Homo sapiens: one gene and its partner. The protein of the gene in region 1 purifies or fractionates together with the protein of each later gene. This does not show direct contact. Each region holds a gene or a part of one and is shown on either strand. Other genes may lie near its edges.

Region 1 (4,268 bases):
TTATCAACAACAATCATCTTCAAAGCACACCATATGTGCCAAACACTGATACGAATCATTTCATTTAATCCTTGGCATAACTTGAGACAAGGGCGGAGAAGAAAGGAGGAAAGGTGTGAAAATGAGGAAAGGTGAGAAAACCGAGAGACACCAACTATGATTTTTACTTTTCCTGGTTATGAAATAATCCATATCTAAGTAATTTCCTTAAAGAAGTGAAGGTCTCAAAGCTACAGAGACGTAGATGTGAGCATCACACAAGTAGGCTAATTCTAGATCACTGGATCTTAACCAGACTTCCTAAATCTTTAAGATGTAGGGCTGGACTAGGTCATCCAAGAGCCCTTCTGGGTTTAATATTCCAGGGACCTAATCATGCTGCAGGAGGATTAAAAGATGACAACTGCTTGAAAGACCAACCACCAGCAATGAAAGGAGTGGAGAGGAAAAGAAATCTGCAAAAAAGTGAACGGCCGCCATTAAGATAATAGCTTCAGGAATTGCTTTTGGTTGACGAAGGGCTCAAGAGATTTAGTGCTACTCAAGCATTTCCCATATTTATGGGACAGACTATGAACCATTCGATCTTAATTAAATCACTGAAAAATCATATCCGCAAAGGGGGAACACAACATAGGACTGGTTATTCTTGGTTTTGAAAAATTATGTTGCCACTTCCTATTGTTTTAAAAATGATCATTTAACTTCTTTGAACTACAGCCTGAATCCCCCACTGAAATATTTAAGCCTGTATTCGGTGACAGTCACCTATATTAAAGGCATTGAAGGAAGCTGGTGCCCCTAATTCAGGGTGCCCATTTAGAGTAGGGGAAGCAGGAAAATGCCACCAAGGACGAGCAGAATCGGGGCAGTTATCTGGCATCTGATTGCCAGGTAACTGTTTCTCACTTTGCTTTGCCCTTTAGCAGAGGACTTGGGGGGCTGCTACACAAGGATGGGGAAGGTCGTGCAGCCATTGCTGTTGACTGTGGACTGCTACTGATGACCTATTTGAGGATGAAGCCAGGGAGGTGGGAGCACTCTGAAGAAAAAAGTTTCTTTAGTCAGGTGGTTTGGTGGCTTAGAATTGGGACCTCAAATGAGACAAAAAGTCAAGTCAGGAATTGGGAAGCCAGACTCAAAATGCTGAGAGAGTCAAACATCAACCCGTTACTTTTCTCTCTGTCTTAAATATTGTAGACCAAATTACAGGGGGTAGGGGTTTGGGAGGGGGATGAGGAATGAGCAGGAGGCCGTAGAAGCTATCTGGTTCGTGTGCACTGCTTTATAAGGGAGGCAGCCAAGACGACCAGAGGCAAGTATCTTGCCCAGGGTCCCACAGGGCAAAATTAAAGTTCGAAAATTTTCTGATCTCCTGAAATGATGGGCTTGGAAATGTTTTTAACAGCAATTTAATCAAAATCCAAAATCTCTACATTTTTTAGAAGTATGCTGTCTACAGAATCTGAGAATCCAGAAGATGCCGGTTTTAACACCTGGTTGTTATTGTACCGCATTACAGGACCTACCCAAGCCCGGAATTCTGTTAGATGACAAACTGGACCCTAGAGTTAACATTCTAGTCTTTCCCCCGGTCTAAATACAAAACACAATATAGTTCTGTATCCAATCTGTTCAAAACTCCTAAACCAACTCTCAGTCTGAGATGGTCCTCGCGGGGTGATACCTGCCCCAAACACCCACACTCGGTGATTTCGAAAATACGTGCAGTAGCCTCGGCCACCTGCGGGTGGTACAAAGGGCGCCTTGAGGACCAGAGCTGGATGAAACGCCGGCTTACAAACCCCGCTCCGCCAGCACATTCAAGTCAAGGATCCAGCTCATTGTTTCCGAGGAGCGGAATGAATTGACCAGCCGAGCGCCGTTCTCCCAGTTAGAGCGTTCCCAAGCTTCCGGCTTCGGAACGGGGCTCACCGCGAGGACACAAAAGGGGCGAGCTCGGGCATCACTGCGGTTCCCCGCCGCCCGCCGAGGCCAGAACGCTCGCAGAGTCGCGGCCGCCCAGGTGTTACCGTTTACCCCGTGACGGAAGAGCCACAGGCTCTTGACTCCCCACCCCCTGAAAAGCGCATCTGCAGAACGGGGGCGCCCCCAAGCCCTGAGCGCCGCAGCAGCTCGGCCGCCGCCCCCACCGCGCGTCCCCGGGTCCTCGGGCTCCCGGCTTCGCTGCTGGGGAGCTGACCCAGCTGACTGGCTGTGGGGTCCCGTTCTGGGGCTGTCCTGCTGAGTCGGGGGTGGGGAAGCGGTGGCTACAACTCCCGGGTGCTCGCAGAAACTCCTCTGCGCGCTGATGTTGCAGCCGCTGGGGCGAGGGGCGGGAGCACCGGGAACTTGGGGGCGCGGAACCCCAAGCGGGGCGGCGGCGGGCAGCATCCCCGACCCGACTCCGACCCCCGAGACGCGGCGCCCCCCAGCGCCCTCCGTCCCCACCGCGCGGTGCCCCCGGCGCCCTCTGTCCCCACCGCTCGGCGCCCCCCAAGGCCCTCCGTCCCCACTGCGGAGGGGCGCGCAGGGGGCCGGCGGGGCCCGGGTACCACGCTCCGCCCGGCCCCACCTGCGGATGTGGGGCTCCCGCCGGAGGTCCCCGGGTCCCCCCTCCCATCCCTGGAAAAGTCCCCAGGGCGTCCGGGCCCGACCGGCGCTTACCCGGGGAGGGACGGCTTCGCATGCCCGGGCGGCGCTCGCAGGTCGGGCGGGGAGGGTGCGGGCTGCGCTGCGCCGGCTCGGGCTGCCGGAGCGCCCTGCAGCCGCCGTCGGGCTCGGGCTCGGGCTCAGGCTCGGGCTCCGACTTCCTCTTCCTCGGGCTCGGCCCCACTGCTCGGCCGCGCCCCGGCCCGCCCCTCCCCGCGCCCAGACGCCAGCTTCGGCGGCCGGAGCAGTGGATCGCTCGTCCCGCCTCCCCTCTGCCCTGAGGGTGAAAAAGGTGGAGAGGAGGGGGGCGAAGAGAAAGAGAAATTAGGCACTTGGCCTTGTCTCTGGAGCCTTGCCAAAGAGAACAGTCAAATTACAGCTTCGGGGGGAATAAAGTTTTTTTTTTTTTTAATTCTGCTACTGTTTTCGCAGACACATCACTTTTTTTCATTTTCCTAGCTCTTCAGGTTTAGCTTTCCTTTGGACGTAATAATTTCCTATGTGAGTCCTTTAAAATAATACCCAAAATCATGGTTTTAGTGAACATTCTAGTTTTACATAGAAGCTTTGCCGGTAATCAAGTGAAAAGAGGGGGAAGCCCGGTGTTCTTCAGGCGTCATTACCCTAATCACCTCGGTTAAAGCACCAAACGACCTTTGCCTAGAGAAAGTAAAAGTGGAAACGGAGGTAAAGAATAACCGGTGACAGCCAGAGAGATGTTTAAAGGCACCGGCTCTGCAGTAAAGTTATGACTCCAATCAAAGGTGCCTGCAGCGACAGTTAAAGGCATGTGAAGTCATTTCTTAACACTAATCTCCCGCCAAAGTCGGACGTATCAGGGTCGCCTGTGGACCCCCTTAGGTTTGGTGGTGGATTTGATTGCACTCTTAGTTGTTAACAGACCTTCAGCCTTACCACTTGCTAGCTGTGTGGCCTTGAGAGAACGCTTTAACCTCTCTGTGTTCTGTCTGTTTCCTCATCTGTAAAATGGAGATGATGATGATGATGATGATGATAGTGCCTACCTCATAGAGTTGCTGTATGTGATTTAAATAAGAGAATGTGCGTGAAGGGCTTAGGAGACTGTCTGGCACATGCTCTACAGCCTGAATAAATGTTAGCTATTCTTGTTGATTTTTGCCTTTTATCTGCTTTTATGCATATACATGATTATGGAAATTATCATAAAGACTGGGAACAAAACAAGGTTTGTGCAGTAAGGCTACACAGCATCACAGTTCTCTACCACGTGGAGTTTATGTTCTGTTTTATAATTTGAGTCTCCACAACTGACTTGTATTACCTAAAACTATGGGACTGGGTTATGCTTGGAATACATTTACCACGGTAGATTTGCAATGGGACTAAAACAGACATTTGCCATCTTCAAAGCATTGTTTCAGTTGGCCTTGCGATAACCTTGTGAGGTTGACAGGACAGGTGCTAGTCGCCTTTCACAGACAGGAAACTGAGCTTAATTAAGACCCTGCCCAGCTTCTGGAGCTCACACAAAATCATGCCTGTTACCCCATCTCTCTATGTTGTGATTTGTGTTAGAAGTGTGCAGTATGTTTGTGAAATAGTACCACATTAATGGTTTCCATCAACCCTGTGAG
Region 2 (2,829 bases), on another chromosome or scaffold:
AGCAAATGCTGGACACTGCGGAAAAGTCTGTAGTTCTTTGCTTTAAAGCTGCCTGTTCTAGGATTTAAATGATGCATCAAGAGTTAACAGTGGCTGCCAAATTGTCCTTAAGAGGCTCTAATTAGACTGTAAGTTCGCGGAGGACAGGAGCTGGGTCTGCATCCTGGCCCCAGTGTAAAATGGGCACTTCCTGCTCTTTGATGAGCCCGCCCAGCTCGTGAGTGAAAAAGGAAGGCATCTGCCGTGGCAGAGCTCACCAGTTTCGCTTCAGTTTTCCCTCTGAAGTTGGGGAGTCAAAGAGTTTTTTGTTGCTGTTGTTGTTGAGCCAAAAGAAGAGAATCTGTGAAATTAAATCTCCAGGCCTCTGAAAAGGATCCAGATCAAGTCAGTACTTTCCTTTGAGTGTTTCAGTGAGTTTATTATGAGCCATTCTGAGACAGGAACAAACCCTGACAGTCTCAAAGTGCCCCCAATTTCATTAGAAAGATCGAAATCTCACATCTGGAAGACAAGACGCCTAGTGCCACTTTCTCTTAGTTTCTCTGGGTAAATAGTGAAATCCTGGCCCAACATCTAAGGAAAGAGTTAGTTCTCTGAAAAAGTGGGCTGAAGATGAGTTTTTAAGATAATAACCTGTCACAGGGTCAGGACTTCTGGGCATAAGCTGTAATGATGGGTACATGACAACCTGATGTTGTGGCCTTGCAAATTCAGCCTGTTTCTCATCTCTGCACAATTCCAGAGGCCTGTGCTCAATCGCACAATCAGCTTGTAGGACAAGAACTGGGATTTGCTCCATCCGAGTCCTGGCCCTTCTGGTATGAACCTACTTATCTTCTTTCTCCTACAAATGTCTCTCTCAGCAAGTCCTTAACTGCCAACCAGTGACCACTTTTCTCCCAACTCACAGCTCCCCTAGCAGAGCAGCTCAAGGTCTGGCTGCTTCTCTCCCTTCTCATTTTAGGACCCATCTACAGGTCAAAGAACCTCATCCCCTGGATGCAGGGCTGGTGTGCAGTTCTCTCTGAGACAAGTAGAACTGCAGGATGCAAGGAAAGGCAAATCCACGATTCTCATGGGATAGTGAAGAAGAGGTAAGCCAGGAGCAAACATGTATTTAAACAACTTGAGCCTTCTCATTTGTGGCATTGTTATATTTCTATCTGCAAGTAAAATCTAGTATTAGAAAAACAAAGCACTAAGTTGCACTTTATGAAAAGTCCACAGAGTACTCTTATTTTTATTTTTGAATCAGAGCCTCACTCCATCGCCTAGGCTGGAGTGCAGTGGCATAAGCTCGGCTCACTGCAACCTCCGCCTCTTGGGTTCAAGTGATTCTCCTGCCTCAGCCTCCCGAGTAGCTGGGATTACAGGCGCCTGCCACCATGCCCAGCTGATTTTTGTATTTTTAGTAGAAACGGGGTTTCCCCATGTTGGCCAGACTGGTCTCAAACCCCTTACCTCAAGCGAACTGCCTGCCTTGGCCTCCCAAAGTGCTGGGGTTACAGGCGTGAGCCACTGCACTCGGCCAGAGTACTCTTTATTTTTTTGAGACGGAGTATCGCTCTTTCACCCAGGCTGGAGTGCAGTGGCATGATCTCAGATCACTGCAACCTTCGCCTCCCGGGTTCAAGCAATTCTGTCTCAGCTTCCTGTGTAGCTGGGATTACAGGTGCCTGCCACCATGCCCGGCTAATTTTTGTATTTTTAGTATAGACGGGGTGTCACAATGTTGGCCAGGCTGGTCTTGAACTCCTGATCTCAGGTGATCACCTGCCTTGGCCTCCCAAAGTGCTAGGATTACAGGTGTGAGCCACCCCACCCGGCCAGGAGTACTCTTTTTTAAAAAGCACTATTAAATCATTTGATTAGCTTAAATCAGCACATATAAGCAGGGCACAACTTGCTAAATCAAGGCCTCTGCAGGGCTCATGTTTCAAGACTTTCTAGTAAAGCTCAATTGAAGACAGTCCTCCAGGGTGACAAGATGGGACTAGAGGAGGAAGGCAGAACACAGCTCCACTGACCCTCAGGCCGCATCCTTCCTGGAACATGGAATCCTACCGATAAGCAGCAGTTGGTTCCATTATCTACAGATTATTTCTTCCCAAAAGAAAAGGTAACAATTATTTTAACAACTGGGAGACAGTGGGGATGACCACACCCTGTGACAAGACAGAAACTTCTCCCTACAAGCAAAGGCACCTTTGGGGACCCTTTGGGGATCTTAACATTCTGCTGGGAAAGAGTCTACCTCAGGGAGCCGTCCATCAAACCAGCAGAGCAGACCACTGCCCACTGTCTCAAGGCTCCAGTTGGCCCATTCAGGAACAAACACGACCTAATTTGCTCTCTGGTTTAGTCTAGGGCTTTGGGACTGATGGTGGGGGAAACAGAGCAAATGATGGGTGACAACTACTGCTCAGGGAGCAAACACCCATGGTGCTGATGCCATGTGGTGGTCTGGATTCTGTACATTGCAGACTCAGCACGTGACCCATGAGCCTGCCTGGCCAATTACCTTAATGAGTGGGGAAGGGGGTCGTCTGAGCAGAGGAACTGACCACCAGAGAAGGGAAATAGGGGCTTAAACGTCTTTCTAGGAGGGGTGTGTACAAGGCCGAGCAGTCAACTCACAGTGGAGCAGCTACAGAGGAGTGCAGTGGCAAGGTTTACCCCTTCCTCAAGTGCAAGCTGGGGGCACTTGCAACCTTCCTTCTTAAGGCTTTTTCTAGGTCTATGCTTTTATCTCCACTGGGATTGCAACAGAACGGCAAACTGATGAATCCTGCAATCAGAGCTGATGATTTGGGGGATGGTCTTGGACCA

The links. Proteins that work in one complex are often made in the same cells at the same time.
Region 2: the proteins of PLEKHG1 (region 1) and NUP93 purify together in Homo sapiens (affinity purification with mass spectrometry, with the first as the bait; one large-scale study listed by BioGRID). This does not show direct contact.

The regions. Positions count from the first base shown.
Region 1 is NC_000006.12:150,598,417-150,602,684, reverse strand, and holds the start of PLEKHG1 (pleckstrin homology domain-containing family G member 1), read right to left. Parts: upstream 2,801-4,268; 5' UTR 2,690-2,800; coding exon of another isoform or gene 2,668-2,689; intron 1-2,667.
Region 2 is NC_000016.10:56,845,129-56,847,957, reverse strand, and holds part of NUP93 (nuclear pore complex protein Nup93), read right to left. Parts: 3' UTR 1-2,829. UniProt on the Homo sapiens protein: Plays a role in the nuclear pore complex (NPC) assembly and/or maintenance. May anchor nucleoporins, but not NUP153 and TPR, to the NPC. During renal development, regulates podocyte migration and proliferation through SMAD4 signaling.